Homo sapiens: one gene and its partners. The protein of the gene in region 1 purifies or fractionates together with the protein of each later gene. This does not show direct contact. Each region holds a gene or a part of one and is shown in the gene's direction. Other genes may lie near its edges.

Region 1 (7,692 bases):
ATTCTCCTGCCTCAGCCTCCCTAGTAGCTGGGATTACAGGCGTGCGCCACCACGCCCGGCTAATTTTGTATTTTTAGTAGAGGTGAGGTTTCTCCATGTTGGTCAGGCTGATCTCGAACTCCCAACCTCAGGTGATCTGCCTGCCTGCCTTGGCCTCCCAAAGTGCTGGGATTATAGGCGTGAGACACAGTGCCCAGCCATGAACTTCTATGATCTTTGAGCAGAGGGGGTCAAGTTGCAAGTCATGGCCAATTTCAGGAATTATAATTTCAGGAAGAATAATTTATTCATATTAATAACAAACTGCGTTGGGGAAACATAATTGGAATTCAGAGGAATCCTGGGAAAAACCAAGAAGGATGAGCTGAGCTTCATTCCCTATGAGATCACACTGCTGTGGCCTTGCTTGTATATGTTACCTCATCTTCACTTTGGCCTCAAAGACAAGGAAATAAGGTATGGTCAGAGATACTTGGACTTGATCCTGAATGAATGAGGCAGAAATTTATCATCTGCTGTAAGATCATCACATGTATAATAAGTTTCTTAGGCCAGGTGCAGTGGCTCACGCCTGTAATCCCAGCACTTTGGGAGGCCAAGGCAGGCAGATTGCCTGAGGTCAGGAGTTCGAGACCAGTCTGGACGACATGGTAAAACCCCACCTCTACTAAAAATACAAAAATTAGATGGGCGTGGTGGCAGGTGCCTATAATCCTAGCTACTCAGGAGGCTGAAGCAGAATTACTTGAACCCAGGAGGTGGAGGTTGCAGTAAGCCAAGATTGCACCACTATACTCCAGCCTGAGCAACAAGAAAACTCCATCTCAAAAAAAAAAAAAAAGTTTCTTGGATGAGCTGGGATTCCTAGAGCTTGAAACTCCCATGAATGAACGTCATCCCAGGGGAGCTATGACCAAGCCTTTCATCACTTATCACAACAAGCTGCACATGAACTACTCTAGAACTCTACCATAAGATGCTAGTGGTTGGTGGCATTGACCAGGTTTATGAAATTGCATTCCAGTTCTGGAATGAAGGAATTGATTTGACGTAAAATCCTGAGTTCAGCACCCCTGAGTTCTACATGGCCTAGACTATCACAATCTCACGGAAATCACGGGGAAGATGGTTCCAGGGATGGTGAAGCATAATACAGGTAGTTACAAGGTCACCTACTACCCAGATGTCCCAGAGGGATAAGCCTGCAATATTGACTTCACCCTACCCTTCCGGAGAATCAGCATGATAGAAGAGCTTGAGAAAGCCCTGGGGGTGAAGCTGCCAGAAAATAACCTATTTGAAACTGAAGCAATTGGCAAAATTCTTGATAATATCTGCGTGCAAATGCTATTGCGTGCCCTCCACCTAGGACCACAGCCAGGCTCCTTGACAAGCTTGTTGGGGGAGTTCCTGGAAGTGATTTGCAACAATTCTACATTCATCTGTGATCACCCCCAGATAATGAGCCCTTTGGCTAAATGGCACTACTCAAAAGGTCTGACCCAGCGCTTTAAGCTATTTGTCATAAAGAAAGCGATAAGCAATGCCTACACTGATCTAAATGATCCTATGCAGCAGTGGCAGCTTTTTGAAGAACAGGCTAAGGCCGCAGGTGATGATGAGGCCCTGTCCGTAGATGAAAACTTTGTTGCCGCCATGGAATACAGGCTGTCCCCCACAACTGCCTGGGGCATGGTTATTGACCGAGTCACCATGTTTCTCACAGATTCCACCAGCAACTCGGAAGGCTGAGGCAGGAGGATTGCCTGAGCCCAGGAGTTTGAAGTTTCAGTGAACAACACAGTGAGACCCTGTCTCTAAAAGGAAATTTTTTTTTTTTGAGACAGAGTTTCGCTCTTGTTGCCCAGGCTGGAGTGCAGTGGCACGATCTCAGCTCACTGCAACCTCCGCCTCCCGGGTTCAAGCGATTCTCCTGCTTCAGCCTCCCAAGCAGCTGGGATTACAGGTGTGCACTGCCACACCTGGCTAATTTTTGTATTTTTTATAAAGACGGGGCTTCATCATGTTGCCCAGGCTGCTCTCGAACTCCTGAGCTCAAGCAATTCACCTGCCTTGGTCTCCCAAAGTGCTAGGATTACAGGCGTGAGCCACCATACCCAACCTTTTAAAATTTTTTTCTTTTCTTTTCTTTATTCCTTCCTTCCTTCCTTCTTTTCTCTTTTTTTAATCTTACAAAAAATGTTTCGGAAAAGGTATTTTATTTTTAAGACAGGGTCTTGCTCTTTCCCAGAGGCTGGAATGCAGTGGAGCGACCATAGCTCACTGTGGCCTCTAACTTCTGGGCTCAAGCAATTCTCCCACCTCAGCCTCCTGAGTAGCTGAGACTACAGACATGTGCCACCATGACCAGCTACTTTTTAAAAAATTTTTTTGTAGAGAAGGGGTCTCACCATGTTTCCCAGGCTGGTCTTGAACTCCTGGCCTCAAGCAATCCTCATGCCTTGGCCTCCCAAAGTGCTAGGATTACAGGCATGAGCCACCATCTCTTGTCCCCTGAGATACTTTTAATGGCCTTGCTGGATCCAGCTCCTGCACCCCAGGGCCCTCCTGCCTCCTCCCCACCCTCGGCTGATGGCACTACCTCAAGGACATGGGATAGCATGCAGCCTTCTGTCCCAGATCCTCTGTACTGTCTGAAATCAGGCAGAACCCAGCTGCAAGAGGAACTCAATGGTACACATGGGACCCAAGTCATCAATCGTCTCCATCAGAAAGCAACCCAGGGCCAGGCACAGTGGCTCAGGCCTGTAATCCCAGCACTTTGGGAGTCCAAGGCGGGTGGATCACCTGAGGCCGGGAGTTCAAGGCCAATGTAGTGAAATCCCGTCTCTACTAAAAATACAAAAATTTGCTGGACATGGTGGTGCATGCCTGTAGCCCCAGCTACTAGGGAGGCTGAGGTTGGAGAATTGCTTGAACCTGGGAGGCGGAGGTTGCAGTGAGCCAAAGTGGCACCACTGCACTCCAGCCTGGGCAACAGAGCAAGATCCTGTCTCAAAAAAAAAAAAAAAAAGAAAAGAAAAAAGGCCGGGCGCAGTGGCTCATGCCTGTAATCCCAGCACTTTCAGAGGCCAAGGCTGGTGGATCACCCGAGGTCAGGAGTTCGAGACAATCCAGCCTCATCAACATGGTGAAACCCCATCTCTACTAAAAAAAATACAAAAATTAGCCAGCCTGGTGGTGCATGCCTGTAATCCCACGTACTTGGGAGGCTGAGGCAGGAGAATCGCTTGAACCTGGAAGGTGGAGGTTGCAGTGAGCCGAGATCGTGCCCTCGCACTCCAAAAAAAAAAAAAAAAAGCACCCCAGGAATGTTGGACAGAGAGGCTGGCGGGGTAGGGGTTGGTTGGTAAGGCTTGAGCAGAAGGTTCTAGATGCATTCAGGAGATAAAGATGCATTTGGGGTTATTGCACTTCTCCTAGAAACATAAACATTGACTTCCTTTTGTGGAAGAAAAATGTTATGTTAGCTATTTGACGTTTCAGGAAGGGTGGCTTCAGCTTGGTGATTGGAGGATGTTTGTCTACAGTGGCCAGGCTGCTTTCTGGCTTGGAAGACTATTGTTTCTTGGGAATTGTCTGTATCAGACATCATGGGAGCAGATCCAGGGCGACATCAAAGGGAAGCATGAGTCTCCAGGACCAGAGGGGCTTGGATGCAGATGATCATCATCTGGGCACTGCTGGATACTGAGTAAGCCCCAGCTGCACCCCACCTCTGCGCTCTGAGCATGGGAGGCAGCCTGTGCAGCTATAACTCAGCCTGACTTTTTCCTTCCCTGCATACTCTTGAAATACACTGGAGATGAGTAGGGGCGAGTGAGCTGCACACCAGAATAAGTTTGGTCCTTGGAGCAAACTGTTTCTACTGCTGCCTCCTCTGCAGGTCTTGATTTATGCAAACACTGCATAGAAGAGGAAGTAGAGGGAAAAGCTGTTCACCCACCTACTCCTTCCTGGTAGCAAGATTTCCTATCCTGGCCTTGCCTCAACAGCCCTACCAATTGGAGGCTGAGGTTGTGCCAAGGCTCTATGGGGGGACGTAGCATCACTGAGGTGGCCAGATTTTGGAGGACAGGAAAGTTTGTGCTATTTGCTGAGACTGGAGAGGCTGGTGAGAGCAGACTCTCCATGAGTTGAAAGCCAAAGAAAGAAATTCGGTAGATTTCTGCAATGAGAAGCCACGGAAGAACTTCAGGCAGGAGGATGCATTGGATCTTGTTTTCGTTTTGTTAGAGATGGGGTCTCACTCTGTCGCCCAGGCTAGGGAGCAGTGGTGCCATCGTCTCTCACTGCAACCTTAAACTCCTGGGCTCAGGCGAACCTCCCACCTCAGCCTCGTAAGTACCTGGAACCACAGGCATGCACCACTTTTTTTTTTCCTTTTTCTTAGAGTTCTCATTATGTTGCCTAGACTGGTCTCAAACCTCCGGCTTCAAGAGATCCTCTCACCTCGACCTTCAAATTACTGGGATTACAGGCATGAGCCACCATGTCCTACCAGACTTTGTTAAAAGAGGAACAGGCCAGGCATCGTGGGCTCACATGAACACTCATGCCCCAGAAGTAAACAAGTGTTAGCCAACCAGGAGGCCTATCCTCCCCCTAACCTCACCCAAAGCCATCTCTGTGCCCTCCCCCTTGCAGGGGAAACAGCACACACTAGTGAAATCTTGTCTTAGTGTGTCCGGAATTGGTGGGTTCTTGGTCTCACTGAGTTCTAGAATGAAGCTGCAGACCCTCGCAGTGAGTGTTACAGCTCTTAAGGTAGCGCGTCTGGAGTTTGTTTCTTTTGATGTTTGGATGTTTGGAGTTTCTTCCTTCTGGTGGGTTTGTGGTCTTGTTGGCTCAGGAGTGAAGCTGCAGACCTTCGTGGTGAGTGTTACAGCTTTTAAGGCAGTGCGTCTGGAGTCGTTTGTTCCTCCCAGTGGGCTTGTGGTCTCGCTGGCTTCAGGAGTGAAGCTGCAGACCTTCGCGGTGAGTGTTAAAGCTCATAAAAGCAGCATGGACCCAAAGAGTGAACAGTAGCAAGATTTACTGCAAAGAGCAAAAGAACAAAGCTTCCACAGTGTGGAAGGGGACCAGAACAGGTAGCCACTGCGGGCTCAGGCAGCCTGCTTTTATTCTCTTATCTGGCCCCACCCACATCCTGCTGATTGGTAGAGCCGAGTGGTCTGTTTTGACAGGGTGCTGATTGGTGCGTTTACAATCCCTGAGCTAGACACAAAGGTTCTCCACGTCGCCACCAGATTAGCTAAATACAGAGTGTCGACACAAAGGTTCTCCAAGGCCCCACCAGAGCAGCTAGATACAGAGTGTCAGTTGGTGCATTCACAAACTCTGAGCTAGACACAGGGTGCTGATTGGTGTGTTTACAAACCTTGAGCTAGATACTGAGTGCCGACTGGTGTATTTACAATCCTGAGCTAGACGTAAAGATTGTCCACGTCCCCACCAGACTCAGGAGCACAACTGGCTTCACCCAGTGGATCCCGCACCAGGGATGCAGGTGGAGCTGCCTGCCAGTCCTGCGCCATGCGCCCGCACTCCTCAGCCCTGTGGTGGTCGATGGGACTGGGCGCTGTGGAGCAGGGGGCGGCGCTCACCGGGGAGGCTCCGGCCGCACAGGAGCCCATGGAGGGGGTGGGAGGCTCAGGCATGGAGGGCTGCAGGTCCCGAGCCCTGCCCCCCCGGGAAGGCAGCTAAGGCCCGGTGAGAAGTCGAGCGCAGCGCCTGTGAGCTGGCACTGCTGGGGGACCCAGTACATCCTCCGCAGCCACTGGCCCGGGTGCCAAGCCCCTCATTGCCCGGGGCCAGCAGGGCCCGCGGGCCGCTCCGAGTGCGGGCCCGCCAAGCCCACGCCCACCCGAAACTCCAGCTGGCCCGCAAGCGCCGCTCGCAGCCCCGGTTCCCACTCGCGCCTCTCCCTCCACACCTCCCTGCAAGCTGAGGGAGCTGGCTCTGGCCTTGGCCAGCCCAGAAAGGGGCTCCTACAGTGCAGCGGTGGGCTGAAGAGCTCTTCAAGTGCCGCCAAAGTGGGAGCCCAGGCAGAGGAGGCCCCGAGAGCGAGCGAGGGCTGTGAGGACTGGCAGCACGCTGTCACCTCTCATTAGGAGCTGCCAATATCAGTGGCACAGACCTGAGCACAGGGATAATTTGGGGTCAGAGGCTACAGTCTAAGTTAGCTAGATGCTGGCAGTGGGCAGAGTGGAAACAAGGCAGAGGCGGGGAAACTCAGGGCCTGACTCCAGAGCCGACCTTAAGTGTCACCGCTGATTCCTCCTTACTGTCTCCCACCAACCCTGCTTCAAAGCATCTCCAAATCCTGGGTTCAACTTCCAAACATGTCCCAGGAATGTCTCCTTCCTGTTCCCACTGCTTCTCCCCCTTACAGGCCCCTTCATTCCTTACCCCTCCTGATCTCCTGGCCTCCAGCCCATTCCCTACAGAAAAGCCATACCTATTTCTTCCATTTTAAAAAATGTGAGCTGGGCGCGGTGGCTCATGCCTGTAATCCTAGCACTTTGGGAGGCCAAGGTGAGTGGATCACGAGGTCGGGAGATCAAGACCATCCTGGCTAACACGGTGAAACCCCGTCTCTACTAAAAATACAAAAAATTAGCCGGGCGTGTTGGCGGGCACCTATAGTCCCAGCTACTCGGGAGGCTGCGGCAGGAGAATGGCCTGAACCCGGGAGGCGGAGCTTGCAGTGAGCCGAGATTGTGCCACTGCACTCCAGCCTGGGCGACAGAGCGAGATTCCATCTCAAAATAAATAAACAAATAAATATAAAAATAAAAAATTTGGCCAAGGGTCGGGGGTGGCTCATGCCTGTAATCCCAGCACTTTGGGAGGTCAAGGCAGGCGGATCACCTGAGGTCAGGAGTTCGAGACCAGCCTGGCCAACATGGCAAAACCCCATCTCTACTAAAAATACAAAAATTAGCCGGGAGTGGTGGCATGCGCCCGTAATCTCAGCTACTCGGGAGGCTGAGGCAGGAGAATCACTTGAACCCAGGAGGCAGAGATTGCAGTGAGCCAAGATTGCACCATTGCACTCCAGCCTGGGCAACAAGAATGAAACTCTGTCTCAGAAAATAATAATAATAATAATAATAATAATAATAATAATAATAATAATATCATTATCTATTTTTTTACAGACAGGGTCTTGCCCTGTCACCCAGGCTGGAATGCTATGGTGTTATCATAATGCTCACTGCAACTACAAGTGTGGGTGTGTCTGTGATTCGCTTTGTATGGTCCCCTCAAGGCCACATTTGAGGACTGAAGTTGCATATCATGGAAAATTGTGTTGTCTGGCTTATCTCCTACAGAGACAGTGCTCACTTTTACTGGCTCAACTCAGCCTGCCTCTGCTGAGCTAGCAGGTACCCCAAGTCCCAGGAGGTCAGACATTCGGGCTCTGGAGAGAAGCTTAAAAAAAAATGCAAAAAGTTGGCCGAGTGCGGTCGCTCACACCTATAATCCCAGCGCTTTGGGAGGCCGTGGTGGGTGGATTACCTGAGGTCAGGAGTTCAAGACCAGCCTGAACAAAATGGAGAAACCCCATCTCTACTAAAAAATACAAAATTAGCCAGGTGTGGTGGCACATGCCTGTAATTCCAGTGACTTGGGAGGCTGAGGCAGGAGAATCACTTGAACCCAGGA
Region 2 (7,584 bases), about 46 Mb from region 1:
ATTTATAGTATATAACATGATATTCACTGCATCCTTATGAAATAGGTAACCATTATTATTATTTCCATTTTACAGATGAGGAAACAGACATGTAGAGGTCAAATAATTTGCCTCAAATTGCATAATCAAGAAGCATAGAGCCCAGCTTAAAACCCAGATAGTCTGGCTCAAAGTGCAGATGATAAACTACCATGCTAATGAGTAGCACTGGGAGTTCTCCAATGAAGCACACGATGTTACTTGTATTTGCTACTAACGTCTTCTTTTTTTTGAGATGGAGTCTCACTCTGTCACCCAGGCTGGAGTGCAGTGGTGTGATCTCAGCTCACTGCAACTTCCACCTCTCAGGTTCAAGCAATTCTCCTGCATCAGCCTCATGAGCAGCTGGGATTGCAGGTGCAGGCCATCACCCCTGGCTAATTTTTTTTGTATTTTTAGTAGAGACCGGGTTTCACCATGTTGGCCAGGCTGGTCTCAAACTCCTGACCTTGTGATCCACCCACCTCAATCTCCCAAAGTGCTGGGATTACAGGTGTGAGCCACCGCACCTGGCCAACTACTAACATCTTCTAACCCCTGGTTCAATTCTGCTACTTGAGGCTTTTTTTTTTTTTTTTTTTTTTGAGATGGAGTTTCACTGTGTTGCCCAGCCTGGAGTACAGTGGCATGATCTCAGCTCACTGCGGCCTCTGCCTCCTGGGTTCAAGCGATTCTCCTGTGTCAGCCTCCTGAGTAGCTGGGATTACAAGCATGAGCCATGGTGCCTGGCCTAGGCTACTAATTTTTTTTTTTTCAAAGCTGTCTGCAGTTTTGCCTTGACTTAGAATTCATCAACTGGAGCCCACAGTGATATCATTGCACAGGATTGAAGTTGTATCAACTAAATTCAGATAAAGATCTCCTACGTTAATTAATTAAACAAATTGTTGAGTACATTTGCTAATTTTGTTAGAGGTGCTCATTGCTTAATAACTACAGGACACATTCTATTGAATATACTGGGAAAAAGCTGTATCTTTCTCTGAAGGTATACAAAACAATATTAAGAAGCATAAAAAATATCTGTCCATAAAAACATGATTATGGCCAGGTGCAGTGGCTCACGCCTGTAATCCTAGCACTTTGGGAGGCTGCAGCAGGCGGATCACGAGGTCAGGAGTTTGAGACCAGCCTGGCCAACATGGTGAAACCCCATCTCTACTAAAAATACAAAAAATAGCCAGGCGTGGTGGCAGGTGCCTATAATCCCAGCTACTCAGGAGGCTGAGGCAGGAGAATTGCTTGAACCCGAGAGGCAGAGGTTGCAGCAAGCCGAGATCGTGCCACTGCACTCCAGCCTGGGCAACAGAGCAAGACTCCATCTCGGGAAAAAAAAAGTGATTATATGAGTTATTTTTATTTTTATTTTTTGATACAGGGTCACCCAAGCTGGAGTGCAGTGGCACAATCTCAGTTCACTGCAGCCTCAGCCTCCCAGGCTCAGGTGATCCTCCCACCTCAGCCTCCTGAGTAGATGGGTCTACAGGTGCATGTCACCACGCCTGTCTTATTTTTGTATTTTTTGTAGACACGGGGTTTCTCCATGTTGCCCAGGCTGGCCTTGAACTCCTGGGCTCAAGCCATCCACCTGCCTTGGCTTCCCAAAGTGCTGGGATTACAAGCATGAGCCACCCTGCCTGGTCTATATGAGTTCTTTTTAAATCATTATCTCTTCAAGGAGATAACAATCATCAATAGGTTTTGTACAGATCCAAACTCTCTGCTTGTGGATTCTCTTAACATGATACTTTGTAATTGAAAAGAGAATATGAAAATGCCAAGCTTTGTAACTTCAAAGAACAACAATAACAAAAAGCCTTTGCCTAGAGATCTAGATAGGAAAGTGATCCCGCCAAAATTTTGGGCCTGTGTACAGGGCTGTGACCCAAGTGGGACACCTGGGGTCAATGAGCAGAGTTCGGTGCAGAGGGTCATTTGTGTATCTTTTGAATATTACTAACTGCATCTCAAGATCATGTTAGAACGAGTATTGGCTATTTGGCTTTTTGTGTCATCTTGCCCCTTCCCGTCTCCATTATGGAGAATTGAGGTTTTAATATACGGTAGTGACATTCTAGTAGATGAAGGAAGGGGGCTGTCCCCAGTGGGCAATCTGAACTTCTGCTTCGTATATTTACTCTTGCTGTTTTCGTTTCTCCTCATTTGTAATTCAGGAGGCTCTCTGAGAAGAGACAGCAAAGCTTCTTAGATGGATCGAAAGACCACGAGCTGGGATACCAAGTTCTATGAAAAGGTCAGCTATTGAATTTACTCTGCTACCTTCAGGCAAATCATTTGATCATCGGATGCTCTGGTTTCTTCCTGTGCCTGCTAAATGTAAATAGCATGGGTTTGAGTGTTTGGTGGTTATTATAGAGTATTTTAAATGTATGAGTGATTTATTTTTCTAGGCCAGCTGCTCAGATATAAAACAAAATCTGCTCCTTTGAGCTGTTAGGCTTCGTGGCAGTCAACTGACCCCAAAATCCTTCTGACTACAGCAGCCATCTACTTGCTTGTTCATCTGATAACATTTTGCAGTCTCTCAGCTACAGCTATGTGGTCTCACTCTATAGCTGGGGCATACCTTTTTGTCTCCTTTGTCTTCAGAAAGGAAATATGCCATTTTATGCACTCCTGCTGCTTTCACCCCCACTTTAAAAAGATGAAGGCTTCCTTTTGTGACAGAGTTGCTTTGTCTGTTACACTGATCCTAAGAGACAGGAAGGAGAGGTGTCATAGTAAATAAACAGTTATTGGACTTGCTACCATAGTTCCTTTTTGATGACTTGGGCCAGGACCACTAGAGGTTTGAACTAGATTTAGTAAGGCTTGGGCTTTTCGGGGTTTTGGCAGGAAGCAGTCAGGGAGTATATTGGAAAGAGAGAACACAAAATACCGAACCCCACCCACCCTGTGCCTTTTTGTTTGTTGTTACAGCCTGTTACATTAGGCAACAAGATATCCTTGTTAGCCAAAGGTGCCAAGCTGAGATTCTTAAAAGCTAATGAAAGAGCTGTTGGGCCAGGTGCGGTGGCTCACGCCTGTAATCCCAGCACTTTGGGAGGCCGAGGCAGGCGGATCACGAGGTCAAGAGATGGAGACCATCCTGGCCAACATGGTGAAATCCCGTCTCTACGAAAAACACAAAAATTAGCTGGGCATGGTGGCGCGCACCCGTAGTCCCAGCTGCTCGGGAGGCTGAGGCAGAAGAATTGCTTGAACCCGGGAGGCGGAGTTTGAAGTGAGCCGAGATCGAGCCACTGCACTCCAGCCTGGAGACAGAGCGAGACTCCACTCCGTTTCAAAAAAAAAAAAAAAAAAAAGCTGTTGGGTAAGGAATGATTTTGTTCCCCATCTGTGGCTCACCACCCCACTGTTTCATAAATGAAAATCTCTGATGTGCAACGCTGAATTAACCAAAAGGCTTACTTCTTTTGTTTTGAACTTAGACACATTTACATTATTTCTGGTGCAGTTAAATTAAAAGCACTTTCCAAACAAACCTAGGAAAGTATTAAAGTTAGGGACTCCCACGAAATGTTACTCCTTAATTGTGGCTTGGATAATAGCAGGAAGAACTGCAGACAGGAACACAGTGTAACTAACCCTTCAGTTCTGAAATGTTGCTAGGTCTCCTCGTGTTATAAATGATCAAATAAATATCCGGGTTAAACACTGCTCCCAGAGCTGAGTTCACTCTTAAGAGTGTTGGGTCCAACTTCCCTGTGCTAATTCAAGGAAACAAGGCAGCCAAGGAGTCTAACTTGAGGTCTTCATTCTTGGGCAGGGCCATCAATACATCTAAAACATTACTTGTGGGTACCCCAGCTGCGGTAGCTTCCCCAAAAGGCAGAATTTTCACTCATTCTTTATAGAAACACGTAGCCAGCAACTTCTCAGGCTTGGGGAACGGGGCAGGCGGGTCGTGGTGGTGGGGAGAGTAGAGGAGGGAGTCTGGCAGGTCGGTTCTAAATGTAAACTGGAAACTACGCATCCGAGCGGGCAACCATCACTGGCACCATTCGTCTCCGGGAAGAACCTGTGTGTGTCAGGATGCACGAAAGGAATGACTCCCCTCTTTGCGCCCCCGGGGTTAACTGCACGACCCTGTCAAAGTCCCGCCGTGGAGTGGGATGAGGGTCGAGAGGTAACCCTGTCAAAGTCCCGCCGTGGAGTGGGATGAGGCGAGGAAAGACTGGAGGTCCTTCCAGCACCACCTTGGAGGGGCAGGGAGGCTGCAGTTACCGCCTTCGGAAGTGATCTCCTCAGCCCTCAAAAAAATTAAAACCACCTCCGCCATTTACTAGAGGCCAAGGCAGGGCCGGGACACGAGAACGCGCTCCGGGCGGATGCGCGCTCCCTTTGTCCCGCCTCCCAGCGGCCCGCTCATTGGACGGAGGGAGGGCGCCGGGGGAGAAAGCGACGCGGCCGCTCGTAAGTGCTCCGGATGGAAACTGGTGCAGGGGGCAGCGGCGTTCCGCGGCCGGAAGGGAAGGGGGAGGTGCCGAGGCTGCGCGCCGGCTGCTCCTCCCCACCCCCAGCCTTTGCCCTGAAGGGGGCTGGATGGGCAAGGCGGCCGCGATGGCTCGAGCTCGGGCGGTGGCGGCGGTGGCCGGAGGCGGCGGTGCCTCCTCCTCCTCGCCCCGGCGCCGGCGGTGATCCGAGCGAGCGGCCGCGGCCCCCGATGAGACTGCTGGCGGGCTGGCTGTGCCTGAGCCTGGCGTCCGTGTGGCTGGCGCGGAGGATGTGGACGCTGCGGAGCCCGCTCACCCGCTCCCTGTACGTGAACATGACTAGCGGCCCGGGTGGGCCGGCGGCGGCCGCGGGCGGCAGGAAGGAGAACCACCAGGTACGGGCTGGGGCCGGGGCCGGGGCGGGGGCGTGGCGGCCCGGCCTTCCCGCGCTGGGCCCGGCTATTGTGCGGGACGGCTCCGCGAGGGGGCGGCCCGGCCCTCGCCCCTCCGCCTCGGCCCCTTGGAAAGTTTTCCCCGCGCCTTCCCCGCCGGGCGTCGACTCCGCGAGCCCCGGGCACCCGGCCGCGGCCCCGCGAGCGCCTTTTGTTCCGCAGCGCAGGCGGGGCATGGCCTCCCGGGCCCGATCGTGAGCGGCCCGGAGCCCCGCATTGTTCCTGGGTCCCGGGCGGTGACTGCGGACGCCCGGCAGCGGGACTGGGGAACTTTGGGGCCAGAGCGTGGCTGGGGGCGCCCGCCTGGCACCGAGGCCTGAGACTGAAGAGACCCGGCCAGATCCATTACCCCGAGAAACAAAACGAAAAGCCAGCCCCTCTTGTTGTCTCGTTGAATCCCAGAACGTACAAAGGGTCGTGAAGAAATGTAACTGTACATCGCAAGCCATTGAACTCTCCAGGCTGATTGGGGTGACATTTCTCCCTAAGCACTTAAAAAATGGGTTTGACAGGTTGTCGCTCCCATCCTACGGAACCTTCCCCTCCTACCTAGCAGAGATCTCCTTTAAACTTGGATTTAGTCAGCCTGCTAGAAAGATTGTGTGTGATGAGGAGGAAGATTATGCAAGTTTTACAGGAAGGGTTTTTAAAACAGAACGGGACGGGAGGGAGTTTTAGTTATGCATCGTGAGCGTTACGCTGTGACCGGGTAGGTAGGCTTTTCATTAGCTCAGTCTTGCGCCACTTAAACGTGTACAGGTTAACTGTAGAATTAAGTGAGATATTTCGTATATGACCTTAACATAGTTTGCAGTTAATGTTAAATTCATTGAAAAGAGGCTTTTGAACTCTGCCAGAGTGTTGGCTTGTCATAGCTAGCATTTATAATACATTTTGCTTTTCCATAGAGTATTAATTATTCCCTATATCATCTTGTGTCTCATCATTTTCATATATTTCTCATTTTCCTACATTACTTTTTTATTATGCCAGGTGTTCAGAGAATTTACACCCAGGTTGATTTCATGTGTTTTAATGAGGGTAGAGAATTGTCTAAGAAGGAGATAGAGCAATTTAGAAAAGTAGCATTTAGTCTTTAGTAATATGTATATTGGGCTTTTTTCTATTGTTAAAGGAATCCTAAATTTCTGTAAATTTTTTTGAAAGCCTCCAGCCATTGCAGTTTGTTAGGTGCAATATCAGTATCATTGATCACTTGTATGATATGGTTAGGAATGTATGTAAACTTAAATTGCAAAACCACATTTATTCCTATGGATTATTTGCTTACACTAGTTCATTCTTATAGAGACAACTCAAAGGTACTGTACCGTTGACTGTACAGTTACCAGAATGTCACATATGGAACAATGGGGTAGACAATGAATTAGAAATGTCATTTTTAACATTTTTAAGCAGTTGATAGAAATAAGGTCCTGGATAGGAGAAAAAGCGATTTATCTCCATTGATGGGGGATTATGGTTGAGTCTCTTAGCTATTGGTATTTATAACACTTATCATGATTACCCCTACTGCAGCCACTTGGTAGGTTTTTAGTGCTCATAAAAGAATTGCACTTATTTTAAAATTGAAACACTATTTCAACACTGTGATGTGTATGGAGGCGGAATTGCAGCTGTAGACATAGCCTCAGAATATCTCCCAGCAGAGGATACTTTCTGACTGTACCTTTTAAAAGCTGAATCTGTTAAGTTCTAATGAAAACTAATACTGGTTTCAGATACGTTTATTTCAGATACCGTATTTATATTCTGTGTGTGTGTGTGTGTGTGTGTGTGTGTGTGTACCCCTTCACTAACAATTCAGCAGATAATTTCTTTAGGGTGAAGACTTAATATGGTGTTTTCTGAATATTTGGGGGATGGGTCAACTCTTTTCCTTAGAATAATGAATCCAGACATTATTTTGACATGAATACATTCATATTATGAAAATAATCGTGCATGAATAAAGATTAAAAGGAACAGAAGAAAGGTGTGTAGAAACCACCATGAGATAAAGTAGGAAACTGTCCTTTCTGCACTGTGGCTGGAGTTGATAATTTGTTTTCCACTTAATATTCCAGGATCCTGGGTTTGCCTTATAACTTCGTTGCTTGTGAAGTAACTGTAACTGTTTTTCCTCCTTCAGATTAATAGTTTTATACAAGGTCTTCTAAGTGTTCAGTTGGGTGTGTGAGTTCCATAGCCAGCCACATCTGGGCCTTTTGGAGTTGCATAAAAGTAGGGTTGTGGATTTGATTGAACCATACTTAGCAAAAGTGTTCCTTCTGGTTATTTTATTAAGGAATTATGATGGAGGATTCTGTGGTTAAAAGAGAGATCTTGGGCAATGTTTATTCGTTAAAAATGGCTATTTTGTTAGTATAGTTTGGAGAGGCAAGGCTCCTTTGGGCTAAAGCTGCTCTAAAACTGTAGTAGCAGTGCCATTTTAGTAACTTGGTTTGGTGTGCTAGCTTCAAAACTGGGATTATGTTTCACTTTGGGCAAGCAAGAAGCAGGGTTTCACTTAGAGCAGGGAAGTGGCTGGGAGGCCAGACTGGTCTCACAGACTTATTTTACAGCCTATGAAATAAGAATAGTTTTATATTTTTAAATGGTTACCAAGAAAATAT
Region 3 (7,594 bases), on another chromosome or scaffold:
GTTTGGTGGAAAGGGCCCCGAGATAAAAAGGCCCCTTGGCTGAGATTTGTTTTATTATTAGTTAGCCATGCTACCGGGCCCGTTACTTTCCCTTTGAGTCTCACTGTTTAAAATCTCTCACATGACATTTTGGGCTGGATGGTTTAAAAATAAATACAATCTCTCAAGGACTTCACATTACCTACATTGTAAACTCCAAATGTTTAGCCTCAAGTACAAGGCAGGCCCTTTGTGATCTTTGTTACTTCTCCAGGCTCCTGTGCAGCAGAAGCCTCACCATCAGTGACGTTTGGGGCAGCAAAGGAAGCTATTGCTCCCTTTGAGCATATTCTCCAAATGTGGCACCTTTTCGCCCACAGTCCGTGACTCAAACAATGAGAATTAGTTTTTCTTCTCAAACTCATACTTCAGTAGAACTTACCTACTTAAATAGTTCGGAGATTAAGCGTGCTATTTTACACCTGCATGCCTTTGAACATACATTTTCCTAGAATATCCTCCACCAACGAAGTGCCTACTATCTGTCAGGCTCAGATATATGTGCTGGAGTTGCAATGGTGCAAAGTCACTCCCTGACCTCAGGGAGCTCATAATAAAGAAGGAACATGTGAAAAGTAAACAAGCCGGGTGTGGTGGCTCACACCTGTAATCCAAGCACTTTGGAAGGCCGTAGTGGGAGGATCATTTCAGCCCAGGAGTTCAAGGCTGCAGTGAGCTATAATCAAACCACTGCACTCCAGACTGGGTGACAAAACTAGACCCTGTCTCTAAAAAAACAAAAAACAAAAAAAACAGACCTTGACACCATGAAATTAAGTGCCCTAAACGAAGTGACTTTCGTGTGTTGCTGGGGTACCTAGGTGGAGACCTCACTTGGCATAGCATAATTAAGAGCATAACCCCAGTTCTATGCTTCATTGTGTGGCCTTGGGCAAAGTACATGTTCTCCTCTGTAAAATGGGAATATAGTTACAAAAAGAATACAGTTAAATGACTGTAAAACCCTTCTGTATGAAGCAAAAGAGTTATTTATGGGCCGGGCACGGTGGCTCACGCCTGTAATCCCAGCACTTTGGGAGGCCGAGGCCAGCGGATCACGAGGTCAGGAGATCGAGACCATCCTGGCTAACACGGTAAAACCCCGTCTCTACTAAAAATACAAAAAATTAGCCAGGCATGGTGGCGGGCACCTGTAGTCCCAGCTACTCGGGAGGCTGAGGCAGGAGAATGTCGTGAACCTGGGAAGTGGAACTTGGAGTGAGCCGAGATCACGCCACTGCACTCCAGCCTGGGCAACAGAGCGAGACTCCATCTCAAAAAAAAAAAAAAGTTATTTATGATTGTGGATCACATAAAAAGCACTCATTTGGCTGAGTGTGGTGGCTCATGACTGTATTCCCAGCACTTTGGGAGGTGGAGGCAGGTGGATCTTTTGAGCTCAGGAGTTCAAGACCAGCCTTGGCAACATGGCGAAGTCCTATCTCTATTAAAAAAAATACAAAAATTAGCCGGGCGTGGTAGCGCATCGCTGCGGTCCCAGTTACCCAGAAGGTCAAGGCTGCAGCAAGCTGAGATCGTACCACTGCGCTCCTACCTGGGCAACAGAGCAAGACCCTGTCTCAAAAAACAAAACACAACAAAGAAACAGATTCAAGCGCCTGTGCCTCCTGGGAGAAATATGCTTCTCCTTTCCCAGCCTCGTTTAAAAATGTGTGGTTACAGATAACAATATTTATTATGCTTTTTCATTTATGCCATCACATTAAACTCCCCACCCCCAACAAACTCCGAGGTGAGGATTATTACCATTTTGCAGATCAGGAAACTACGGTGACAAGCAGCTCTGGGCAGCTCTGTTGCCTAGGCTGGAGTTCAGTGGCACGATCATGGCTCACTGCAACCTCGACCTCCTGGGCTCAAGCGATCCTCCCACGTTGGCCTCCCAAGTAGCTGGGACTACAGGCAAGCACCACCATGCCTGGCTAATTTTTGTTTTTTTTTTTCAGAGATGAGGTTTTGCCATGTTGCCCAGGCTGGTCTGGAACTCCTGGGTTCAAACGATCTGCCCACTTTGGCTTCCCAAAGTGCTGGGATTACAATTCCAGGCATGAGCCACTGCACCTGGCTACAGTTTTTAAATTTTACATAGAGATGGTGTCTTCTTATGTTGCCCAGGCTGGTCTCAAACTCCTGGGCTCAAGAGATCCTCCTGCCTCGACCTTCTGAAATCCTGGTATTACAGGTGTGAGCCACCATCCCTCCCCCTGCCCACCCTGCCCTGGGTTTAGCCAGAGAAAAGAACTCGGGATGAGGGGAGAAGAAACAGGGAAAGAGAAATGGGAAAATGGGGGAGAAAAGGAGGTGAGTAAAGAGAGAGGAGAAAGGGACTGGCTAAATTTGAAAAAAATCACAGAAGGTCAGTGCTGGAAACAAGAATATTTGGCTTAGACTCTGTTTAAATTATGAAGAAACGGAGACCCAAGGAAGGAAATGTCTCTTGGAGAATTACCTAGGAACTTAGTAACTGAAAAGGATCTGGACCTGCAGTGTTCAGTATGGTAGCCTCCGGCCATATGTGGCTATGGAGCACTTGAAATGTGGCTAGTCTGAATTGAGATTTGCTGTTAAGTGTAAAATACACATCAGACTTCAAATATTCCATATAAAAAAAGAATGTAAAGTATCTCATCAATAATTTTTCATATTGACTCCATGTTGAAATGATTGGGATATATCTAATAATACAATAAAATATTAAAATTAATTTTACCTTTTTTAACTCTAAAAAATGTGGTTACTAAAAAATTTTAAACAACATATATGGCTCACATTTGTGGCTTGCACTAGATTTCTACTGGACAGCGCTGGTCTAGAAATCTTCTGACCTTGAGCTAAGTGTATCTGCTGTTTCCCAGTCTCTTCCAACAAGTCATTTACAACCTATCATGTGCCAGCTGATGAGAACAGATTCAGTTGCAGTCTAAGGATGAGACTAAAACAGGGATAACAGGTGCTGGTAGGCAATATCAGTGAGTTCTATCTTATATACTCCTAGAATGGTATCTATAAGATATACATACAAGATATTCTTGAGTGGTTCTTAACTTTACCAGCCCCAATGTTCCATTTTAATAACATTTTTATAACTCCCCATTTACTATTGTGAAATGAAGTTTATAGATAGTATAGCCTAACTACATACATAATTTCAAAAAAAATTATAGTGTCTGAACCAAAGCAGAAAGAATAAAAGGAAATCCTTTATAATAAGATAATACTTTTCAGTATGCTAGAAAGCATAATTAGTCAGATGCTAGTAGTTATGCATAGGAGCACCTTGAATGTGACAGTACAAATGCAGACTGAACGCTATGAATAACACTGCTATCAGTGACCCAGTTCTCCAAAATGGTGAGTAATTCCTAATAAATTCCTGAACACAACAAAGTATAATCTTCCTTCTGTTAACATGGTGGTTACATTCCTTAAAAATTCAGCACATTTTACACCCCTACAAGATTACTTTGTTTTTTGTATATAAGACACAGGCACATCAGATGATTATAACCAGTTTTTTTTTAACCTATATGAATATTCAGTAGGACATGTGAAAGCTGTGTGGGATCAGGACAGTTTTCTTGTGTGATACCATCTTGCAATGTGCAAGACATGGAGCCTCCTTGGCTCCTCTCCCCCAATCATTTGACAACAAAATTGCCCCGAACATTTCCAAATTGCTCCTTAGGGAGGGTGCCATTCTGGTTGGGGAACCACTGTGGTGGTCTGAATGCTTTACCTGTTCCCTGTTCCCCAGCCTTACCTTGGGCTGTTCTCCCCTCACCAGGCTCAAAGATGCCCTGGGCCTTCCCAGTTCTTCTCCAAGCCAATCTCTTTCCTCTCTCAGGACATTCTGGTGCTCTTTTCTTTGCCTGGAAAACTGTCCACTTCATGTCTGGATAACTTTTCCTGAACCTTTGGATCTCAGCATTGCCAAATTCCCAGTCTAATTTAATACTTTGTTTAGTTTTTCCACAGGACTCTGTGCTTTTCTGCAATGGTACTTATCAGACTGGGATTTCTACCTGTTTTATTCTTGCTATGTCAAGCGTGTTTATTACCTGTCTCCCTCAACTTTCAGTTCCCTGAGAGCAGGGACCATGCCCATCTCGTCCACCGCTTGTTTACCCAGCACTCACGAAGATGCCCGGAACTTAGCATCCTTAGATGAACGTACGTGCCTGGCAAACAACAAACATTTCTTAGGCAACTGAAAGGCTGATGGGATTCCACAGCCAATTGGGAGAAAAGCGCTCTCGAGGGTGGGGGTATGCTTTTTCCAGGGCAGATGGTGTTCAGCCCAAGTTACGGGGCAGCTTTGGTCCACTCTGGATTTGCCTGGATTCGCGTATGTGGGGGCGAACGCGTCTTATCGGGGGGCGGCCGGTTGGGGCCAGGCAGCCCGGATCCCAGCCGAGGAGGTGCGCGGTGCTGAGAGGCCGTGGGAGCGACCATAGAGAACGCGCGGGCGGAGCGAGCGGCCGGATGCGGTCACCATAGAGACGGGTGACTGACAGGCAGCGGAAGAGGAAGCTGCGGACAGGGGCTGTGAGGTGGCAGCGGCTGCAGCGGCGGAGCCGGCGCCTCAGCGGGCACTGGGGTCTGTTCCCCCTTCCCCGTCCCTGCTCCCTGCCAGGCGCGTGCGGGACGCCGCTCTTGGTCCCCACGCCTCCGCCCCGCCCCCTCCCGGGACGCCGGGAGACCCCGGCCGTCCTTTATCCGGTGTCCGCCGGCCCCCGGCCCTGAAACCCGGGCCTCCTCCCCGAGGGCCTTGGGCGTCCCTCCTGGTCCTGCGCTCGCGGCCTCGATGCTGTCTCTGGCGCGGCCTCCGCTCCCGCCGACTGGCCTGAGAACGAGGTCTGTGCCCCAGTCTCCCAGCCGCGACCTCCGACCCCGCCTCGCAGAACGACCCGAGCTGGTCTCCCGAGCCCCCTTCTCAGCAGCCCGGTGACGTGGCCAGTTTATTTCTGTTTTGAGACGAACGGCGAAGACTCGCGTCGGGTCTTCGTTCTAGGGCTAGACTTGGTCTCTGATCGCCGAGAGGTAGCGCAGGGGCTGTGGGCCCCCGGCAGGGGTCCTGTCGGAAGCTGGCCGCGCTTCTGTTTGCGTTCCCAGGACCCTGGCATTGTCTCTAGTTGCTGCTTGTGCTCTCTCTTTGCTTTTGGTTTGCTTCATTTGGCCCCTGGGGCCCTGGTAAAACCAGGCACCGAATCGCTCGCACACAGAGTTCCAGTCCCCGCCTGCTGTCTCCTCAGCAGCTGGGGTTCCGAGGAGAATGCCCTGCAAGATGGCTCCATCGGCCATGGCGCTCCTGAGAGGCTGTCAGTGCTGAGTCACCGATCTACCTCATTCGGGTGGGCAGAACTTATGTGTGCCATGCGAGTGGCTCCAGACCGCTCCTGAGTGGGAGGAGGGGTTCCTGTAGCCGTTGCGTCTTCTCAAACACGGGGAGCAGAGTAGAAAGAGGCTCTGGCCCCTTCCCTTGTGCCCACCGGGCCTGCCGCAGTGGCTCAGCAGCCCCTTCAGTAGCCCGCCTGAGGACCGATGCCAGAGGCAGGCATTCTTCCGGAAAGGCCCACTGAGGCAGGCTCCGGCTCCTCTGGTTGGGGCTGTTGTTTTGATGGATCGTGTGCTTTTCCCTTACCTCTTATCACTTGCTGTCATCTGTTGACTTAGGCCCAGTCTGCAGATGTGTGTAGTGTTCCTTTTTGGGTTAGCTTTGGCAGTATTGAGTTTTACTTCCTCCTCTTTTTAGTGGAAGACAGACCATAATCCCAGTGTGAGTGAAATTGATTGTTTCATTTATTACCGTTTTGGCTGGGGGTTAGTTCCGACACCTTCACAGTTGAAGAGCAGGCAGAAGGAGTTGTGAAGACAGGACAATCTTCTTGGGGATGCTGGTCCTGGAAGCCAGCGGGCCTCGCTCTGTCTTTGGCCTCATTGACCCCAGGTTCTCTGGTTAAAACTGAAAGCCTACTACTGGCCTGGTGCCCATCAATCCATTGATCCTTGAGGCTGTGCCCCTGGGGCACCCACCTGGCAGGGCCTACCACCATGCGACTGAGCTCCCTGTTGGCTCTGCTGCGGCCAGCGCTTCCCCTCATCTTAGGGCTGTCTCTGGGGTGCAGCCTGAGCCTCCTGCGGGTTTCCTGGATCCAGGGGGAGGGAGAAGATCCCTGTGTCGAGGCTGTAGGGGAGCGAGGAGGGCCACAGAATCCAGATTCCAGAGCTCGGCTAGACCAAAGTGATGAAGACTTCAAACCCCGGATTGTCCCCTACTACAGGGACCCCAACAAGCCCTACAAGAAGGTGCTCAGGTGAGAGCAACATGTGTGCATAGTCCCCAGACACTGGCCCTGTTTTGGGCTGGTGTAAATCCTTGCCTCTGCCTTTCCATTGGCAATCGGCGTCGGGCGACTTGGAGCAATTCTGGCTTATTTTCCATCATGGTTTCTTTCTGTTTTTTCCCTCCTTCTCAGGTCTTAGAAAGTCTCACATTCATTGGTGTTAAATTAGGGTTCGATGTTTTTTGTTTGTTTTTGTTTTGTTTTGAGACGGAGTCTTGCTCTCGTCGCCCAGGCTGGAGTGCAATGGTGCGATATTGGCTCACTGCAATCTCTGCCTCCCAGGTTCAAGTGATTTTCCTGCCTCAGCCTTGCGAGTAGCTGGTATTACAGGTGCACACCACCACGCCCAGCTAATTTTGTATTTTTAGTAGACATGAGGTTTCTTCATGTTGGTCAGGCTGGTCTTGAACTCCTGACCTCAGGTGATCCACCTGCCTCGGCCTCCCAAAGTGCTGGGATTACAGGCGTGAGCTACCGTGCCCAGCCAGGGTTCGATGTTCTTGAACAGAGGAGGAATTGCATCTAACCTACCTAATCTATCCTTGGTAGACTCCCTCCCCTCCCAAATCAATTCGTGTCAGCTACTTAGTGGATACTCAGTTCAGTACCTAATTAATATTGACAAGGAAGGAAGTTTCTCCCTTCTCAGCCCCAACTCACTCCTAGAGGGGGATGTATATTCTGAACAAGCTGGGTTCCTAAAGATTAGGGAGTTGACCTCTGGCACACTGGTCTTTCCACAGGACTCGGTACATCCAGACAGAGCTGGGCTCCCGTGAGCGGTTGCTGGTGGCTGTCCTGACCTCCCGAGCTACACTGTCCACTTTGGCCGTGGCTGTGAACCGTACGGTGGCCCATCACTTCCCTCGGTTACTCTACTTCACTGGGCAGCGGGGGGCCCGGGCTCCAGCAGGGATGCAGGTGGTGTCTCATGGGGATGAGCGGCCCGCCTGGCTCATGTCAGAGACCCTGCGCCACCTTCACACACACTTTGGGGCCGACTACGACTGGTTCTTCATCATGCAGGATGACACATATGTGCAGGCCCCCCGCCTGGCAGCCCTTGCTGGCCACCTCAGCATCAACCAAGACCTGTACTTAGGCCGGGCAGAGGAGTTCATTGGCGCAGGCGAGCAGGCCCGGTACTGTCATGGGGGCTTTGGCTACCTGTTGTCACGGAGTCTCCTGCT
Region 4 (7,928 bases), on another chromosome or scaffold:
CCTTCTCTGCAGCTCTGGAGGCTGCAGCTTCTGGTCCTGGACCGGGACTTAGGTCCACACCCACGTGCTGACGTCGGGCAGGCTCAGCGGCCTCCCGCGCCTGCGCAGCACCGCCCTTTTCGGGCGCGGCGCCCAGTCCCTACACCCCACAATCCCCCGCGCCGTTCCGGAGGCGCGCTAGGAGTGGGTGTGGCCTCTGCCTCCACATTGGAACAAGGTGAGGCAGAGGGTGTCGCGTGGTCTTCTGGGAAATGTAGTTCGTCTGCCAGGCCGGAACCACCGCTCAACCGGCTCGCGAGACTATGCACCCCACAATGCGCCGCGCGCGCAGCGGCTAAGCGATGCGTTGCTGCCTCCACGTGGTGGCTGAGTGATCATGCTCCGGTTTGGGAATGGGGCCCAGAAGGGTAGGGTTAGGGGCGGGGACGGTGCTGGGGATGCTGAGGGTCGCCCTGGAAACCTCTGGGAAGATTTTCCAGAGGGTAAGTCCCCTGAACCTGGCCCACGAAAGGGTAGTAGTAATGAAGAAATTGGAGGTGGGGCCCGCTATGAGGACCGAATGACAGAGCAGCACCTGTTGGCTGCATATGATAATCAGGCTACTGTTACACCTAAGACTCACACAGTAGGCACTTCCTAGGCCACTTACCGCTCCCTGCGCTTCAGGTATCTTAGCCCATTCAATCCTCCCAGCCACCATTCGAGATATTATCAGCCCTCCTTTCTAGGAGTGAAGCTGAAGCCCAGAAACGCGAATCACTTGCTCAAAGTTATTCAACATGTCAGTGGCAGAGCTGGGATTTGAACTAGGCTGTCGGGCTACCAAGTCTGGGCTCTTCTTCATAGGAATATCTCATCACCCTATTCAGTTATCCTAAAATTGTAATTAGCACATGAATCAAGTCAAGATGGTCATTAACATGTGAATCTCTTTGAGTCGCTGATTACCAGCGCTTGTTCCTGCCCAAATTTGTGACTTAGACCTGCTTCAGGACAAAGTTGACAATCAACATAGATTTATAGTTAGCACATGAATCAGCACAGGTTTCTGTTCACAGGGATCAGATTTCTGATTAGCACTTGAATCAGCAGTGGTTTGTGTCAACAGCTGGAGTCTTTAGGTTCCTGATTTGCACAGGGATCTCCATCCAGGGATTATTTTCTTGCCTAAATAGGCCTGTTCCTTTATGTCCAGGTGACCTTCTCTTCAAATGTTGTCCCAGCTGGGTGCAGTGGCTCACGCCTGTAATCCCAACACTTTGGGAGGCTGAGGCGGGAAGATTGCTTGGGTCTGGGAGTTTGAGACCAACCTGGGCAACATAGCGAGACCCCGTGTCTCCATGAAAAATAAAACAATTAGCCTGGCATGGTGGCATGCTCCTGTAGTCCCAGCTACTTGAGAGGCTGAGGTGGGAGGATCCCTTCAGCCCAGGAGTTTGAGGCTGCAGGGAGCTATGATCATGCCACTGCATGGCAGCCTCAGCGACAAAGCAAGACCATTTCTCTTAAAGAAAAAAAAAAAAGGGCGGGCACAGTGGTTCATGCCTGTAATCCCAGCACTGTAATCCCAGGTTGAGGTGGGCGGATCAACTGAGGTCAGGAGTTCGAGACCAGTCTGGCCAACATGGTGAAAACCCATCTGTACTAAAAATTTTTTTAAAAATGGCCAGGCACAGTGGCTCACGCCTGTAATCCCAGCACTTTGGGAGGCTGGGGTGGGTGGATCATCTGAGGTCAGGAGTTTGAGACCAGCCTGGCCTACATGGTGAAACCCCATCTCTACTAAAAATACAAAAATTAGCAGGGCATGGTGGCACGTGCCTGTAATCCCAGCTACTCGGGAGGCTGAGGCAGAAGAATCGCTTGAATCCGGGTGGCGGAGGTTGTAGTGAGCCAAGATCATGCCACTGCACTCCAGCCTGGGTGACAGAGCGAGACTCCGTCTCAAAATAAAAATCAGCCAAGCGTGGTGGTGCATGCCTGTAATCCCAGCTACTCAGGAGGCTGAGGCAGGAGAATAGCTTGAACCCAAGAGGTGGAGGTTGCAGTGAGCCGAGATCATGCCACTGCACTCCAGCCTGGGCGACAGAGCAGGACTCTGTCTTTAAAAAAAAAAGAGATGGGGGCTGGGCGCAGTGGCTCACACCTGTAATCCCAGCACTTTGGGAGGCCGAGGTGGGGGTATCACCTGAGGTCAGGAGTTCAAGACCAGCCTTGCCAACATGGTGAAACCCCATCTCTACTAAAAATACAAAAATTAGCCGGGCATGGTGGCACATGCCTGTAATCCCAGCTACTCGGGAGGCTGAGGCAGAAGAATCGCTTGAATCCGGGCGGCGGAGGTTGTAGTGAGCAAAGATCACGCCACTGCACTCCAGCCTGGGTGACAGAGTGAGACTCCGTCTCAAAATAAAAATCAGCCAAGCGTGGTGGTGCATGCCTGTAATCCCAGCTACTCGGGAGGCTGAGGCAGGAGAATAGCTTGAACCCAGGAGGTGGAGATTGCAGTGAGCCGAGATCATGCCACTGCACTCCAGCCTGGGCGACAGAGCAGGACTCTGTCTTAAAAAAAAAGAGATGGGGGCTGGGCGCAGTGGCTCACACCTGTAATCCCAGCACTTTGGGAGGCCGAGGTGGGGGGTATCACCTGAGGTCAGGAGTTCAAGACCAGCCTTGCCAACATGGCGAAACCCCATCTCTACTAAAAATACAAAAATTAGCTAGGCATGGTGGTAGGTGCCTGTTATCCCAGCTACTTGGGAGGCTGAGGCAGGAGAATCACTTGAACCAAGGAGGCAGAGGTTGCAGTGAGCCAAGATTATGCCACTGCACTACAACCTGGGCAACAAAGTAAGACTCTGTCTAAAAAAATAAATAAATAAATAGGCCGGACACTGTGGCTCACGCCTGTAATCCCAGCACTTTAGGAGGCCGAGGCGGGCAGATCACGAGGTCAGGAGATCAAGACCATCCTGGCTAACATGGTGAAACCCTGTCTCTAATAAAAATACCAAAAAAATTAGCTGGGCATGGTGGCAGACGCCTCTAGTCCCAGCTACTCGGGAGGCTGAGGCAGGAGAATGGCGTGAACCCGGGAGGTGGAGCTTGCGGTGAGCCAAGATCACACCACTGCACTCCAGCCTGGGCAACAGAGCTAGACTCTGTCTCAAAAATAAATAAATAAATAAAATAATAATAAAATGGGGTTATTTGTTTTTTGCTTGTTGCATTGTTTAAGTCCCTTATAGACTGAATTCCTCTTTATGTCTCTAAATACATTTGTCTCTTTGGTACACATCTGCGGTGCTACATGCCCTCAACCCACCAGGTTTTAGCATAGCTGTTGTGGTAGACAGTTCCGTGTGCAGTGCAGATAGCCCTGGTTCAGCCCAGCTGTTCTCAAAATGTGGTCCCTGACCAGGTGTAGTGGCTCACACCTGTAATCACAACACTTTGGGAGGCCTGGGAGGGAGGATTGCCTGAGGCCAAGAGTTCAAGACCAGCCTGGGCAGCATATTGAGACCCTGTCTCTACAAGAAATTTTAAAAATTAGCTGGATATGGCGATGCATGCCTGTAGTCTCAGTTACTCTGGAGCCTGAGGTGGGAGGATTGCTTGAGCCCAGGAATTTGAGGTTGCAGTCAATTATGATTGCACCAATGTACTGGGTGACAAAGCAAGACCCTGTCTCAAAAAAAAAAGTATGGTCTTTGAAAAGTCACATTAGCATCACCTGGGTACTCGTTAAAAATGCAAATGTTTGGGTCCCACCTCAGACCCACTGAACCAGAAACTCTGAGGTTGGGACCTGGAGATCTATGGTGCCCCCGGGTGATCCTGGTGGGCTGCACTGCAAGGACACCTGGCCTGGCTCCTGCAAGGCAAGGCATCCCTCTCTGCTTTTCTTTCTTTCTTTCTTTCTTTTAAAGACAGAGTCTCACTCTGTCACCCAGGCTGGAGTGCAATGGCTGGATCTCAGATCACTACAATCTCCACCTCCCGGGTTCAAGCAATTCTCTTGCCTCAGCCTCCCGAGTAGCTGGGATTACGGGCGTCCGCCACCACACCCGGCTAATTTTTGTATTTTTAGTAGAGACGGGGTTTCTCCATGTTGGCCAGGCTGGTCTCCAACGCCTGATCTCAAAAGATCCGCCCGCCTTGGCCTCCCAACGAGCCGGGATTACAGGCGTGAGCCACCGCCCCCGGCTGTCAGTGTGTCTTGAGGTCTTTCCCTAATCCCAGATGGCACAAGTTTTCCCTCTTGCAGGCAGAGAAAGGAGCCTTGGGAAGGAGCCCCTCTGGCCTGAAAGATCAAGCCTATTGCTGGGCATGGCCAGGTAAGGAAACTCCAACCGTGGAAAGGACATTCCAGGGAGGTGGTGCTGAGATAAGGGGGGCAGAAAGAGACAGGTTTGGGGGGCCAGTGGCTCTGGAATGAAGCGCTACACTCAAGGCTAGGAATAGTTACTGAATGCACATACACACATACCATTCTCACAGCCCAGGTGCTGCGTCTTAGAGCGTGTGAGTGTGTATGTGTGTGTCTGTGTGTGCGCGCGCACGCACGTCTCTATCTCTGTTTCTGTCTTTCTCTGACTTGTCCTTATCTCTTGTCTCTCCATCACTCTCTGTGTCTCGCTGTCTCTGTGCATTTCCATGTCTCGAATATGTGTGTGTTTCAATCTGTCTCTCTGCCTCTTTCCATTTTCTCCTCTCTATCCATCAATCTAAGCCTGCCCATCTTTTTGTCTGCCTTTCTGTATCTCCGTTCTTCTCTGTCTCTCTGTCTCAGTCTCTCTGTATCCAGGGATTCTCTTTCCCAGCAGCGCCAGTGCGACTCCATGGGAGGTGGGGCCGGGGCGCGTCTTTGAGAGAAGGGGCGGGTGCCTACGCCTTTAAGCGCGGGTGCGCGCGGAGCCTGCGCCTTTAAGCGCCGGTGCGCGCGCTGCCCTGGGTTGCCGGCGAGGAGGCCGCGGGAGCGCCTGGACCCGGCCCGCCCAGCCCGGCCCCCGCCCGGCCCCCGCCTCGGCCCCGGCGGGGGAGGGGTCTCTGAGCGCGGCCCCTCCCCCCTGCGCCCCCGCCTGCGCTGCGGTGCCCCCATCCCGCGTGTCCCAGTCTGTCTGACCGTCCCTCCGCTCCCAGGCCTCGCCCCACCCGGCCCTGGGGCTGCCCGGTCGCCCCCCTCCCCACCGCAGCCGGTCCCCTCCCTCCCAGTCAGCCTCCGCCGCAGCCCAGGAAGCCAGCCGGGACGCCGCCGCCCCGGACCCCGCGCCCTAACCTCCACCTCGGGGGCCTGCACCCCCAGATTGAATCGGGAATTCCGGAAACCCGAGCCTGGAACCCTGATCTGGGACCAGCACCCCGAGATCCGGCCGTGGAACCCCAAGATCTGGAGCCTGAACCCCAGTATATGGGGCTGGAATCTCAACATCGGTCACTGGGACCTCAATATTTGGAGCCGGAACCCCACAATTTGGAACACAGACCCCAATATTTGGAGCAGAACCCCAAGATTTGACATCTAAAACCTCAAGCCTGGAGCTGAACTCTGAATTCTGGGCCTGGGACCTTGAAATCTGGGACTGGATTTCCAGTACTGTACCCTGGAACCCACTCTTGGGGACCTGAACCCTGGGATTCAGGCCTCAAATTCCAAGATCTGGACTGTGGGATTCCAAGGGGCCTGAACCCGAGTTTGGGCCTGAAGTCCTTGCTGCAGACCTGAGTGCTTAAATCTGGGGCTTGAGACCTCCCAATCTTGACTCAGCACCCCAATATCTGAATGCAGAACCCCGGGATCGGATCTCAGACTCTAAACCCCACCGTTTGGCTGCTTAGCATCCCAAGACTGGACCTGGGAGACCCTGACCCTGAACAACCCAAACTGGACCCGTAAAACTGGACCCTAGAGGCCCAATATTTAGGGGTCTGGAACCCCGAGTATTAAGGTCTGGAGACTCCGTTGCCACAGATTTGAGCCGAGTCAGGACACAGTCCCTCTACAGAAGCCTTGGGGACAGGAAAAGCATGACCAGATGCTCCCTCCAGAGCCCTGACCTCTGACTCCCCTGGAGCTAGGACTCTGCTCCCTGGGGCTGCTTCTAGCTCAGGTAAGGCTGCTGAAACCTCAAGGTGGGGACGGGCTGGGAGGAGCATTGTGGCTGCGGGTTACGGTACCAGGTACCCTTTGACACTCTTGGGGTTTCTCCAGAAAAAAAGACATTCCCCCATGGGTCTGCCTTCAGCTCCTGCTCTGCTCCAAACACTCTCTGGACACTGGCCATCCTTGCCCCTCTCTGACCTTCCCTGCCTCAGTTGATGGGACCTCCAGGTCTCTGACCCCTGCAACCCTTACAGCCTTTCGCTGTCTATCCGGTCCGACCGTCTCCGCCACCTCTCTTGTCCACCACTCCTCTCTCTGGGCTCCTTTCTCCACCTGTCCTCTCAATGGCCATCTCTGTTCCCTTTTTCTCTCTCTGATCATCTTTGTGACACCCCTGTCCACAGGTCCTCTCTCCAGTCGCCTCTGCCTGCTGCTTCTCAGTGACCATCGCTGACATCTGTGTCCACTGTGCCTCTCTCTAATCATCATTCACCAGCTCTCTTGCTCCTTCTCCACCCCTGAATCTAAGCCTAGGTCTGTGACCGTCCCCATCCATCTTTGACATTGCTGTCCACCACTCTTCTCTCCAGCAGCCTCTGTCCATCTCTCCTCTCTAGCTTCCTCTGGCCACCTTTCCCTTTCTCTGGCCATCTCTCCCACTGCTCTTGCCCTCCTCCCACCCCTGACCCTAACTCCCAGTCTGCAACTGTCTGACCATCTCTGGCCACCTCTCCTCTCTCTCTCACTCACTGATGCCCTCTGATCATCTCTGGCCACCTCTTCTCTCTCTCTCACTCATTGATGCCCTCTTGATCATCTCTGGCCACCTCTTCTCTCTTTCTCACTCACTGATGCCCTCTTGATCATCTCTGCCCACCTCTTTTCTCTCGCTCGCTGATGCCCTCTGATCATCTCTGGCCACCTCTTCTCTCTCTCTCACTCACTGATGCCCTCTGATAATCTCTGGCCACCTCTCCTCTCTCACTTGCTGATGCCCTCTGATCATCTCGAACATCTCTGCTGCCTTTCCTCTCTCCGATGACCTCTCCCCGCACCATCCTCCTGAGCAGCTGTCCTGGGCTCCCACTGACTCTGCCATGTCTGTCCTTTTCCTCCTCTCTGACCACCTTGCTGGCTTTGGGCCGTTTCTGACCACGTGTCTCTGACATGGTCATCTCCCCCAGATCTGAGCCCAACCCATGCCCTCCCTTCTCTTTGTCCACTGCTCATCTTCCTGACCATCTGTAACCCCTTCTCTTCTCTGGTCATATCTGACCACTTCTGATCATTGTTGCCACCCTGGCTGCCCCGTCTCCCCATGGCCAGCTTTTACCATCTCTGACCACGTCTAAAGCCCTCTGGTTTTCCTGCCACTCACCCAGACCAGCTGTCATTTCTCTGACCATTTCTTTACTTTTTTCTTTTGGAGAGACAGAGTCACGCTCTGTTGCCCAGGCTGGAGTGTGGTGGCGCAATCATAGCTCACTGCAGCCTCAAATTCTTGGGCTCAAATTGATCCTCCCACCTCAGTGTCCCATGTAGCTAGGACCACAGGTGGGCGCCACCATGCCTAGCTAATTTTTAAAAATTTTTGTATAATAGATACACGGTCTCACTTTGTTGCCCAGGCTGGTCTTGAACTCCTGGCCTCAAGCCATCCTCCTGCCTCAGCCTCCCCAAATGCTGGGATTACATGTGTGAGCCACCGCGCCTGGCCTTCCTCTGGCTTTTGGTCACATCTGACGGTCTTTGACCAGCCCTTCTGCCCTCAGCCCACTGTGACCTTCTCTCCTGGTCTCAGACCACCCCCAGCCCCTGCAGAACC

The links.
Region 2: the proteins of DPEP2 (region 1) and METTL9 purify together in Homo sapiens (affinity purification with mass spectrometry; 3 studies listed by BioGRID and IntAct, with this or other methods). This does not show direct contact.
Region 3: the proteins of DPEP2 (region 1) and CHPF2 purify together in Homo sapiens (affinity purification with mass spectrometry; 3 studies listed by BioGRID and IntAct, with this or other methods). This does not show direct contact.
Region 4: the proteins of DPEP2 (region 1) and LRFN3 purify together in Homo sapiens (affinity purification with mass spectrometry; 3 studies listed by BioGRID and IntAct, with this or other methods). This does not show direct contact.

Annotation. Positions count from the first base shown.
Region 1 is NC_000016.10:67,996,471-68,004,162, reverse strand, and holds the start of DPEP2 (dipeptidase 2 isoform 1 precursor), read left to right. Parts: upstream 1-4,678; 5' UTR 4,679-4,746; coding exon of another isoform or gene 4,747-4,788; exon of another isoform or gene 4,789-4,896; intron 4,897-7,692.
Region 2 is NC_000016.10:21,595,008-21,602,591, forward strand, and holds the start of METTL9 (protein-L-histidine N-pros-methyltransferase isoform 1 precursor), read left to right. Parts: upstream 1-4,569; 5' UTR 4,570-4,726; coding exon 4,727-4,891; intron 4,892-7,584. UniProt on the Homo sapiens protein: Protein-histidine N-methyltransferase that specifically catalyzes 1-methylhistidine (pros-methylhistidine) methylation of target proteins.
Region 3 is NC_000007.14:151,227,901-151,235,494, forward strand, and holds the start of CHPF2 (chondroitin sulfate glucuronyltransferase), read left to right. Parts: upstream 1-4,582; 5' UTR 4,583-4,864; coding exon of another isoform or gene 4,865-4,914; 5' UTR 4,915-6,111; coding exon 6,112-6,374; intron 6,375-7,147; coding exon 7,148-7,594. UniProt on the Homo sapiens protein: Transfers glucuronic acid (GlcUA) from UDP-GlcUA to N-acetylgalactosamine residues on the non-reducing end of the elongating chondroitin polymer. Has no N-acetylgalactosaminyltransferase activity.
Region 4 is NC_000019.10:35,931,446-35,939,373, forward strand, and holds the start of LRFN3 (leucine-rich repeat and fibronectin type-III domain-containing protein 3 precursor), read left to right. Parts: upstream 1-4,928; 5' UTR 4,929-6,110; intron 6,111-7,928. UniProt on the Homo sapiens protein: Cell adhesion molecule that mediates homophilic cell-cell adhesion in a Ca(2+)-independent manner. Promotes neurite outgrowth in hippocampal neurons.